3 linked regions of the Homo sapiens genome follow. The protein of the gene in region 3 interacts with the protein of the main gene of each other region in a pairwise test. Each region holds a gene or a part of one and is shown on either strand. Other genes may lie near its edges.

Region 1 (3,744 bases), on a different chromosome or scaffold from region 3:
GAAAGGGTCCCAAGGCCGAAAATAATGTTCAACGCTTGTTTCAACCAGGCCAGGGGAGATTCCTTTTTGGGAAGAGGGACAAAGGGTTTTTTGGGAAAGGTTTTTGTAAAGGAGCGGGCGGGCTACTAGGTCCCCCAGAATGCTGAGGCGCTTTAATGAACCTCAGGCCCCAAAGAAATGTTCTATTGAGGTGGAAACCCAATTTACCCACAAGTTCAGTCTCTGGGCCTGAAATCCAAGGCCAGCCCATGCCCCAGCGAGTACGGGGAAAAGAGAACACAGATGCCCTCCCGGACTGAGAACTGGTTCATGGTCAGAGTTTCTGGGACCGCTTTAGTTTCTTGGCTGGCAGGAAGGGAACCTGGCAGGCCGAAGGACGGCTCCAAGCCCTGGCCGGCCCCTCACTCAGGGCAAGTCTTTGGAAATCAAGGTTAAAGCTCCCCGCTGCTGCCCCGAGGCCCGGGCTTCCGCAGGGCGGCTCACCCGCCTGCAGCAAGAGAGGGAGGGAGGAAGTTGTTGAAGTTTCTCATAAAACTCTGAGTTTCCATGGTGGTAGTGGTGGTAGTGGTGGTAGTGGTGGTAGTGGTGGTTCTTTAATGAGCCGGACCACAACCCCAGACCATATCCTCTTCATAGAAGTTTCCCTCACCAAAGGAAACAGAGAACTAAGATTCCCACCTCCTTCCCCTCCCTTACCCAAGCAAAGCCTTGTCAAATAATTTCAGAAATTGTCCAAAACTGTAAAACTCAACTTCTGACAAAAGTATAGCTTTTAATATTTGACAATTTGTATTAAAACAAAAATGACCTTCTTGGTTAGCAGCGAAGGGAAAAAAATCAATAGTATAATTTTCAATAATTCATAAAGCGAACGCCATTATGGTAAATTTAACTATTAATCTTATCCTTTACAAAGTCTCGATTGATTTGTTAATAAAGTATCTTCCCGTGTGTGGCAACAGCGGGCATAACTCTTTAAAAACCTTCAGAAGCAAGAAAATTACCAAGTAGCCCAAGAATGTAGATGAGAATTTTATTGATCGCCCTGATTCTTCTTAATATGTATTAATAAATTCCACAACCTTTTGTACCTTGCACTTGTCAGAAACCAGTGCTTTTACAAAATCCATAAAAGGAAAACATTTTTCTTTGCAGAAGAACCAAAATGACACCTTTGCATTTCTCTCTGTCCTTCTTGGCCCAGTCAGTTTTCTAAAACTTCTGGATTCTGAGGGTCAGAGTTTCCCCTTTTCTTAAATTATTTTTTCCTTTCTTCCTTCCTGTTTGCCCTCCATTATCAGGGTGTGGGGAGAGAAACCTCTGTTTAGTTCTCCTACAGGGAGCCCGAGGGACGCTTTCGCGGATAGTGAACTGCTGGCAAAGAATTGTCTCTGGGCTGAAAGCTCCCAGAGGTCCGGCCCCGCAGAGGTCAGGGTGTGGTTCCTCTGAGAGCCGAAGCCTCGTGTAGCCCTCCGGGGCGCATAGGAACCCGGAGCCAGGCAGGAGGACCGAGCGGGAGGACAACGCAGGGACCAACCCATCCATGGGGATCCGGGCCCGGCCAGCTGCTTGGCCTCCCGGCCCTCGCGGCCCTTTTTGCCTCCGCCCTCCTAGAGACACCTTGGCCGCTTCTTAGCCCCAAGGGATCTTTCCTTTGGACCCCTGGGGTGGGATGTCTCAGGGCCCGCGGAATCCGACTCACCTTCCCGCTGGGCTGCCCGGGACTAAATTAACCAGCCTGCGCCCCCACCCGCTTGTCCTGGACCCGGCCCTCTTAAGCGCGTTCTGCCTGGTTGTGTGTGGGGGGAATGCTTCTGTGCGCTGGCGCCAGGGCACTCTGGCTTCCCTCCCCGTCCGTGCGTGTCCACTTGGAGGCCCCTAGAGCTGAGACTTTCCTTCCGCCGGTTGGGCCCAGGGGCCGAAGCGGGGGACGCGAGTGGGGCGGGCTGGCCGAGCGAGCCCTGGAGAGGCGGACAGGAGGGCGGCGGAGAGCGCTGGGCCGGTTGTCTCCAGCGCGCACTATCGCGGGCGCGTAGTAGATGTCGCTGTTGTCCGTGCTTACCCGGCCGGCCGGCCAGGCTCTGGAGCACGTGACCCGAGAGGAGGCTGCGGCTCAAGGCCATTTTCAAATCTCATTGGCTTGGTTGTCATGTGGTCGGCAGAGGCATCCACAATTACACGGGGAATGTTTTCCTAGAGATGTCAGCCTACAAAGGACACAATCTCTCTTCTTCAAATTCTTCCCCAAAATGTCCTTTCCCAACAGCTCTCCTGCTGCTAATACTTTTTTAGTAGATTCCTTGATCAGTGCCTGCAGGAGTGACAGTTTTTATTCCAGCAGCGCCAGCATGTACATGCCACCACCTAGCGCAGACATGGGGACCTATGGAATGCAAACCTGTGGACTGCTCCCGTCTCTGGCCAAAAGAGAAGTGAACCACCAAAATATGGGTATGAATGTGCATCCTTATATACCTCAAGTAGACAGTTGGACAGATCCGAACAGATCTTGTCGAATAGAGCAACCTGTTACACAGCAAGTCCCCACTTGCTCCTTCACCACCAACATTAAGGAAGAATCCAATTGCTGCATGTATTCTGATAAGCGCAACAAACTCATTTCGGCCGAGGTCCCTTCGTACCAGAGGCTGGTCCCTGAGTCTTGTCCCGTTGAGAACCCTGAGGTTCCCGTCCCTGGATATTTTAGACTGAGTCAGACCTACGCCACCGGGAAAACCCAAGAGTACAATAATAGCCCCGAAGGCAGCTCCACTGTCATGCTCCAGCTCAACCCTCGTGGCGCGGCCAAGCCGCAGCTCTCCGCTGCCCAGCTGCAGATGGAAAAGAAGATGAACGAGCCCGTGAGCGGCCAGGAGCCCACCAAAGTCTCCCAGGTGGAGAGCCCCGAGGCCAAAGGCGGCCTTCCCGAAGAGAGGAGCTGCCTGGCTGAGGTCTCCGTGTCCAGTCCCGAAGTGCAGGAGAAGGAAAGCAAAGGTCGGTATGAGCAGAGTTGCCACCCCAGCGGGGCGCGCAGCCCGGGAACCCGGCAGAGAGGGAGTGCCGGGGTGCCCAGCGCCGAGCCGGAGCCCGACTTGGCAGGTGCTGCTCCGCCTGGTTTTAGAGGGGTGATCTCAGCCCTGAGATAGTCCCCGCTTCTCCCCTGCTGCCCTGGCCCTCTCCGCCAGTCCTGGCCCCACGCTGATGGCGCCCGGGCAGAGGAAAAGCTTGCCGGTTTTATTTTTCCTGAGCTAGACCTGAACACAACAAAAGAGCGCAAAGGAGACCTGCGGCTCATAAACACGACCACAGAGCCTCTTTTCTCCTGCTCAGATTTGCAGTTCCAGTTTTGCCTTGAGCCCAATGATCATGTTAAGGTGATCCAGGGCACCGTGTTCGTGTTCAAGTGTATGCACCCCGCATCCTGCGAGCTTGGGGGTGGTGAGGGGAAAGAGATGGCTGGGCTGGTTGGTGCTTGAGTTGGGAAACAGGGCTTACTGCCTTTGCTGGGCTAGGTAACCTTGGCTTTGTTTAGGAAAAGTGCTGCAGTCTTTGCAATCCGTCGGCAAAGAGGGCAAAGGCGGAGGGGGAGAGTGGAACCCGCATTGCCCTCCCTGCAAGGCCAGCCTTAGGGCTGGGCTAAGGCAAAGAGCCAGGGATCTGGCTTTTTGAGAAGGAACCCTCCTCCTCTCCCCCAGTGCTTAGAGGTGGGCCACAGTAGGGGGCTCCCTTTCTGGGGGAATGCTT
Region 2 (3,744 bases), about 20 Mb from region 3:
CAGGGTGCCTCATGGCAGAGGCTTGCGAAGAACCCCAAACTGTCAGCGATGGGGTTCAGCTGCTCCTCCAGACGGCTGACGGCTCAGAATCAGGGCTGTCCCAGGTCTTTCTTGGCTGGAACCTGAGCCACAGAGTGTCTTTGTGCACAGGAATCTGTGCAGCCCTATGGGTCAGAGCAGGGCCCTTCCCAGGCAGCTCCACTCACCCTACCTGGGTGGCCCTAAGCCTCACTAGCGACACAGGCAAGTGCCTCCTGGCCGAGTCTTGGGAATTGGAGGGGGCAAGCTCAGCTCCAGAAACAGCAGCCACCATCTGCCCTCATGAATTCACAACACCCAAAAAGGCAGAGAGGGACTCTCCGCCCCACCAGCCCATGGTGAGACCAAGATGCAGAGCTGGAGCCGGCCGCTCCGCACAGACACAGCTCCCCCGCTCCAGCTCGGCACTCCCAGATAAAGCAGGCACCTCCTGACTTCAGAAATAAAACTTTTTTGTCACTCCTTTGTGTGTTTCTGTGGAGAGAGTTGGGTTTCATCCACAAAGAAGCCCTGGTGGCCAGTCCCATGTGGAAAGGAAGGCTGGAGCAGGACCCATTGTAGGCGGTGGGCTCGCCCACTTCGGGGACCCCCTGCAGCTTGTGGAAGGGCCTAAAGTCCCCTCCAGTTTGAAGGGAAACTTTTCCCCTTTCTCCACCCTGTGAAACAAGAGTGGAGGTAAATTTGGACGGAAAGGAGTCAAGAGCCCATCCTAACAGTTTTGGCTGAGCCCTGTGGGGCTTGTTCAACACCTATGGGTAGGGGCAGGGTGTCTGCACCTGCTCAGTTGGTCCACGGGTACAAGCACAGTAGGTCAGGCTGGATCCCATGGGTGTGCAGGCCTCATGCTGTGCCCAGCCACGCGCCACCACCTGGCCCACATCAGTGGGCATGTGTGCTCTGGGGACGTGGTACTAGGCATTGTTTACAGGGCCGAGGGTCGTGGGGTCTGTGCTCATGCGCGTGTGGGGTGTGGAGCGGCACGAGTGTGTGTGGTGTGTGCGTCCTCTGTGTATAGTTCCATTCCTTGGGATTACTGGGTCCCATGATTTGGGGCGGGCAGTCAAGGACCATGGAAAGCATGTCTTTCCTATTTTGTCCTCAAACTGAGATCCCCATGATGCCCAAGCTCGGGGTGCAGACTTGGCTCAGAGCAGAGTCAACTCAAACACTGACAGGTGACAGAAGAACTTTCTGGGTTAAGGAGGGTGAGTGCAGAAAGACGGCCAGATGGGGTGCCGGGTCAGGAAGGGTTTGGAGAGCTGGCAGGGAGGAGAGACTCACCGCAAAATAGGCAGTGTCCCCATCGGTCCAGAGCACCACGAGATCTGCGTTCTCAAGCTCGCCACGGTCGGACATCCCAAACAGGACGCCAGCCTTGAGCCTCCGCACCAGGAGCTGGAAATGGATGGCCTCCTGGGTGTAGCTGACATTCCATGAGAGCTCCAGGGACCCCTCCGGGTCCAGGGGGATGTGATAGGGGAGGGGGCTCTCACGGGGAGCCGAGCCCTGCAGTGCGGCCACCAGGATGACCAGGAAGATGGCCACTGCTGTGCTGTACATGAAGGCTGCCTCCCGCATGCTGGGGCCGGGCAGGCTGGCCCAGCGACTGAGGGCGGGCATGGCTGGGGTGAGCTCTCTGGTCCCACCTGGCCATTTATGCCCTGGTCCTGAATGGGGTGGGTCCAGGCAGCACGGGTAATCACATTTGTCTAGCGGGGAATCCAATTTTCCCTCCCACAAGCTTGCGCCCCAGGCCAAGCACTCAGCCTGCTGCCCTCCTCTAATTGGCACTAATGACACATGGACGTCATCAGTGGGAGTTGAAGTAGACAGGCGGATGCTGTCCCTTCTGAGATGGCTCTGAAGAGCTGTCCCAAAAGCAGATGCACCCTGCAGCCAAGAGGCCTTTCAGACACCCTCTGGCCAGGCACCAGCTGACTGCCTCACAGGCTGTCTGGCCCAGTCCCCAGTGGGATGGGGTCTGCGTCGCCTCTACCCACGGATGAGCAGACTGAGGTCCGAGGAGCTGCTCCAGGCTGACCAGTGAAGGATAGGCCCGTAGCCACTGCAGGCCTGGCCTAGCGAGCAGAGCCGTTTGTACAATACTAGCAGGTGGGCCCATTTCAAACCAAAAATAAGACAATCTCCAAATAGTCCCTGTGTTTAGACACTCTCTCCACGGCCTGCTCTTCCCACTTTTGTCTCCTCTCAATTTTTCCACAGCCTCCAGCTGGTACCACTGCTGCTCCAGAAGGCGCGAGAGCATCATAGGGAGTGGGGGACATGGGCGTGGGGTGCATTGCTGGGGACAGACGGAGCTGGAGCTGCACAGGGGATAGGCAGGCTGCAGGGTGCACTGCTGGGGGTGACAGCCTTTAAGGAAAAGAGGGTGAGTGACAGGCCTGCTCCCCTGTCTCTGAAGCTCCCAAACCCACAGCTTCCTCTTGCCCAGAGCAGATCTGGCCTGAATTTGAAGCCTCTCAGGGCAGCTGGCCGCAGCCCTGCTTCTCCCACACCTGCCACAGGACCTTTGCCATCATCCACCCGTGGGCCCGAGGGTCAGTCTCACCACGGCACCTCTCCCTCCTGTCCTCTCCCACAAGTAGACTGAGGGCAGCTGCCTTCAGGACATTCTGCTTGATCCCTCCAGCTCCACCCCCCAGGCTGGGTTGACAGATCTCTCCAGCTGGACTAGAAGCTGTCCCTCCTCCCCAGCCTCCTCCCTCCCTTCCTTCCTTTTCCCTCCTGTTTCTCGTCTCTCTGGAGAAACCCAGAATCTAGCCTTAGGGGCACATTCATGTCATAGGCTGACAGCAACATTTAGGTCCTTAAATACCCATGACAGCAGGTCTGGAGGCTGCTTCAGCTCTGAGCTCTACGCTGTAGAAAGGAATGACTGTGTCTTTGCACGAACGTGAAATTTGGAGAAAGTGCCAGCCTTCCCCTGGCCCTCGCAGGCAGTGCTCTCTGCCCCACAGTGGCCAGGCCATCCTGCAAAGCCAAGCTCAGGCCATGAGCCCCTCCCCACTGATTGCACCCAGAGGGGCACCGTTCGCCCCCACCCACAGCCCAGGCAGGTGAGGTCCAAGTGCATAATCACCTGTGCAATAGAGTGTGGCATTGGTGTGAAATTGTCTCCCAGGCCAGGGGAAAGACACTCTTGGGAGTTCTCTGGTGAGCCTTGGGAAGGGTCTCAGCCTCCGAAGGCCTGGCTTTCCCATCAGGACATGCCACCTCCGTCGCCTGAGAGCACCTCACCTTCATGCCTCAGATTAGTTCCAAAACCTCCTCACCTGTGCCTTGTAAGCAGGTGTCTGCTGCATCCCGGACATTCACTCTCGGGACTGGGGAGCGGCCACAGCGAGCCGGTGATACGAAGAGCCTCCGGGGTGGGCAGGCACTGGTGTTCCCAGCACGGGATAACAAAAGCCAGCAGAGGCAGAGGTGAGGGTCACGGGCTCCACAGCACACCCAGCTCAGGGGTGAGCCCTCCCAGCAGCCTGGTGGCCACCCAGGTGGCTCCAGCTAGACAACAGGCTAAACGAGCACCAGCTGGGGCCCGCGTTGTGGGAAGGGGGGCACCTCTCTCCCCTCTGGGGTATTGAGGCCCCAGGCACCCCTCCTGCTCCTCCGGGGTCAGAGCTCTGGGGTCATATCCTGCTCCGCCCTCCTGAATGCGCAGCTGGCGTCCTCAGAGAAGCGCTT
Region 3 (3,744 bases):
GGTCAAAGACAATGTCTATTTTGTTCACCATAATACCTTGCACAGCACCTGGGCTAGAGTAAGCACTCAATAATGTCCGAGTGGATGAATGGACTGCAGAATAAAGCACTGGTGCAGAGCCCTGCTAAACTACCCTAGTTTCGCTTAGGGCTCCATCTCCCTCTGCATATCTTCATTTCCTCCTTCCCTGTTTGGAGCAGTGCCAGAGGTCTAGAAGAAAACCAGGAAGCCACAGGTCCGAGAGTATAAGCAGGTTTTGCTTCAGACATCGGCTCAGTCGGGGTAGATGATGTCATATCAGGGGCTCTAGGGAGACTCCCTTCCCCCAGATCCCCTCTTCCACAGTTCCTGGATTTCTACCATGAGTCTTCTGGCCGTGAAGGATTCCTGATCACATGCAAACACTTATTATCTAGCTAGTAACACGCACTGAGTAGGGGGACGGCATGGATGCAGCCTTCTGTCTTTACGAAAACCATGAGTCTGAAGACATGGGTCCCATGTCACCATTAACTAGCTGGGTGACTTTGGGTGAGTCACTTCTTGTCTCTCATCTGCAAAGTGAGTAGTTCAGATGGAGAATTGGTTTTTAAACTTTTTCTTTTCCCCAGCAGATCAACTCTTCAAATTATTCGAATGACCCATATGAGAAACAGAGAAAAGCCAAGTATTTCTGGTTGAAACGGAGAAGCTGGGCTGGAGTGCGCCTCCCTCCAACTCCCCGCTTTAACTCCCTAAGGTTGGTGGGATGGCCAGCTCTAAGATCTCAGAAGGCTGACCAGCTGTGTGCTAAGAACAAAGCAGAAGGCAGCGAGGTTTGTACACGCTGATTGCAGTTACTTAGGCACATTAAAAGATCAGCGGGTGACTGGACTGAATCTGATAGTCGGAGCTCTTAAGCTTCGAAGTAGGTGACTTTCACAGCAACCAAAGTGCTGAGCAGGCAGCCCCTTTGTGCAAGGAGGAGGTTCCAGCCACTTTCGAAGAGAAATGAGGGCCCCAGAGAGAGGAAGCCCAGAAGACTCAGTTACCCTCTTCACATCTACAAAGACGAAATTGCCACCCTACCTTTCCAGACCAGGGACTCCAGGTGTTGAAGGGACTGCCCACAATCTCACAGGTGCTTGGCTTCCAGGTTCAATTAGTTGCCATGCCCTGGGGGGAACTCAGGTCCCCCATCTTCCTCCCCACCCCACCCCCCAGGAAGCTCTCTGGCCTTGGCTCCAAGCAGGTGTGCTCAAGAGGCTGCCGACTGGGCCACCTGGCAGCCCCAGGTGCTGCGTGCATGCTGCCATGGAGACAGGCCCCTGGGTTGGTGGCAAGAAGGCAGTCTCCCAAAGCTTTGCCGATTCAGGGGAGGGAGCAACTGGAGCCTCAGGCCCTCCAGAGTAGTCTGCCTGACCACCCTGGAGCCCACAGAAGCCCAGGTGCGTGCCCTGAAGGTTTCCCAGGACAAAGGGAGGGAGGAGGAGCCAGGGTAGGCAGAGGATGGGGAAGAGGCTCTGGAAGGGGAAGAGGCTCTGGAAGGGGAAGAGGCTCTGGAAGGGCTGATCTGGGGACTGGGGCAGGGAAGCTTCTGCAAGGCTTCCAGGTAAGGAGAAAGGCCTTTCCAGGGGCTTCCTTGCCAGGCCAAGGACTGGGTGAGTAGGATGTGGAGGGTTGGCCCTCTAGCTCAAGGGGAGGAGGGAAAGAGGGCTGGCATTTGTCCCCATAGGAGGGACAGACCAGGGAATTCACAAAACCCATCTCTGCGCTAGTCAGGGATTTGAGGTAGCAGGGAAGGAAACATTTGTCCTGTAGCAAAACCCGCAGACTGCAGCTTACCCCCAGCTCCCTGGATTCAGGGCAGCCAAGGGCACAGACAATGACCATAAGGAGCATTTGCGTCCAGCTCCAAAGCCCAGGGCGACATCTGCTCCAATGCCGGCTCTCTTGGGGGCTCTTGGTAGGGGTGGCCCAGGCCTTCACCTTGACAGAGGGGAGGCTGTAGGAGCATTTGACTCAACTCGATGGGTTAGGAACTGGTGATCAAGAACAAAACGCTTTTGAACCTAAGTAAAACGTGGTGATTACACCTTTCAACACCCACAGAACACTTTGCCCCAGGCCAAGCACAAGGATGGGACTTCATGGCTGTTCCTTTGCTCCTTTCCCCCTTCTGCCAGGACGTCTCCCGCGAAGCCTCCCCGTGTGTGGCTGAGGATGGCTGAGCAGCAGGGCCGGGAGCTTGAGGCTGAGTGCCCCGTCTGCTGGAACCCCTTCAACAACACGTTCCATACCCCCAAAATGCTGGATTGCTGCCACTCCTTCTGCGTGGAATGTCTGGCCCACCTCAGCCTTGTGACTCCAGCCCGGCGCCGCCTGCTGTGCCCACTCTGTCGCCAGCCCACAGTGCTGGCCTCAGGGCAGCCTGTCACTGACTTGCCCACGGACACTGCCATGCTCGCCCTGCTCCGCCTGGAGCCCCACCATGTCATCCTGGAAGGCCATCAGCTGTGCCTCAAGGACCAGCCCAAGAGCCGCTACTTCCTGCGCCAGCCTCAAGTCTACACGCTGGACCTTGGCCCCCAGCCTGGGGGCCAGACTGGGCCGCCCCCAGACACGGCCTCTGCCACCGTGTCTACGCCCATCCTCATCCCCAGCCACCACTCTTTGAGGGAGTGTTTCCGCAACCCTCAGTTCCGCATCTTTGCCTACCTGATGGCCGTCATCCTCAGTGTCACTCTGTTGCTCATATTCTCCATCTTTTGGACCAAGCAGTTCCTTTGGGGTGTGGGGTGAGTGCTGTTCCCAGACAAGAAACCAAACCTTTTTCGGTTGCTGCTGGGTATGGTGACTACGGAGCCTCATTTGGTATTGTCTTCCTTTGTAGTGTTGTTTATTTTACAATCCAGGGATTGTTCAGGCCATGTGTTTGCTTCTGGGAACAATTTTAAAAAAAAACAAAAAAACGAAAAGCTTGAAGGACTGGGAGATGTGGAGCGACCTCCGGGTGTGAGTGTGGCGTCATGGAAGGGCAGAGAAGCGGTTCTGACCACAGAGCTCCACAGCAAGTTGTGCCAAAGGGCTGCACAGTGGTATCCAGGAACCTGACTAGCCCAAATAGCAAGTTGCATTTCTCACTGGAGCTGCTTCAAAATCAGTGCATATTTTTTTGAGTTGCTCTTTTACTATGGGTTGCTAAAAAAAAAAAAAAAATTGGGAAGTGAGCTTCAATTCTGTGGGTAAATGTGTGTTTGTTTCTCTTTGAATGTCTTGCCACTGGTTGCAGTAAAAGTGTTCTGTATTCATTAATTCATTCACTTATTCATTCCACGACCATTTACTGGGCTGGTGCTGAGTGCCAGAACTGAGGGAAGAGAAGAGTAGGATTATCCAGGGGTGGCAGATGGCCCTCACTAGCAGGAAGGGGTGTGCTCATTCAGCTGCTGCTTTTATGAGACCACCTCTTGCCAGCATGTAGTTCATGGAGTGTTAGGTGAAATCTAAAGGTGAACGATGTTAGATCAGTGGACTAGGGGAAGTCTGGGATTTGGAGGAATAGGTCTTTCTTCCTCCCGGCAGATACAGAGGCCCTGATTAGAATGGACATGGGGTAGAGTTCTGATTCCCTTCCCCCAAGCTCCATAATTCCAGCTTCAAGAAGATGGAAACGCTGGACACAGGCAAAAGTTTAACTCCCATCCCAGGCCATGGGAGGCAGCGGGGGAACCCTAGCTTTCACTTTACATGATAGAATCCAGG

The links.
Region 1: the proteins of RNF183 (region 3) and HOXD10 interact in binary tests that used the Homo sapiens proteins (3 or more experiments, as listed by UniProt).
Region 2: the proteins of RNF183 (region 3) and DBH interact in binary tests that used the Homo sapiens proteins (3 or more experiments, as listed by UniProt).

The regions. Positions count from the first base shown.
Region 1 is NC_000002.12:176,114,585-176,118,328, forward strand, and holds the start of HOXD10 (homeobox protein Hox-D10), read left to right. Parts: upstream 1-2,193; 5' UTR 2,194-2,249; coding exon 2,250-2,994; intron 2,995-3,744. UniProt on the Homo sapiens protein: Sequence-specific transcription factor which is part of a developmental regulatory system that provides cells with specific positional identities on the anterior-posterior axis.
Region 2 is NC_000009.12:133,634,287-133,638,030, reverse strand, and holds the start of DBH (dopamine beta-hydroxylase precursor), read right to left. Parts: upstream 1,669-3,744; 5' UTR 1,660-1,668; coding exon 1,321-1,659; intron 1-1,320. UniProt on the Homo sapiens protein: Catalyzes the hydroxylation of dopamine to noradrenaline (also known as norepinephrine), and is thus vital for regulation of these neurotransmitters.
Region 3 is NC_000009.12:113,296,643-113,300,386, reverse strand, and holds the end of RNF183 (E3 ubiquitin-protein ligase RNF183), read left to right. Parts: exon of another isoform or gene 1-531; intron 532-611; 5' UTR 612-815; exon of another isoform or gene 816-2,165; 5' UTR 2,166-2,202; coding exon 2,203-2,781; 3' UTR 2,782-3,294; downstream 3,295-3,744. UniProt on the Homo sapiens protein: Acts as an E3 ubiquitin ligase catalyzing the covalent attachment of ubiquitin moieties onto substrate proteins. Triggers apoptosis in response to prolonged ER stress by mediating the polyubiquitination and subsequent proteasomal degradation of BCL2L1.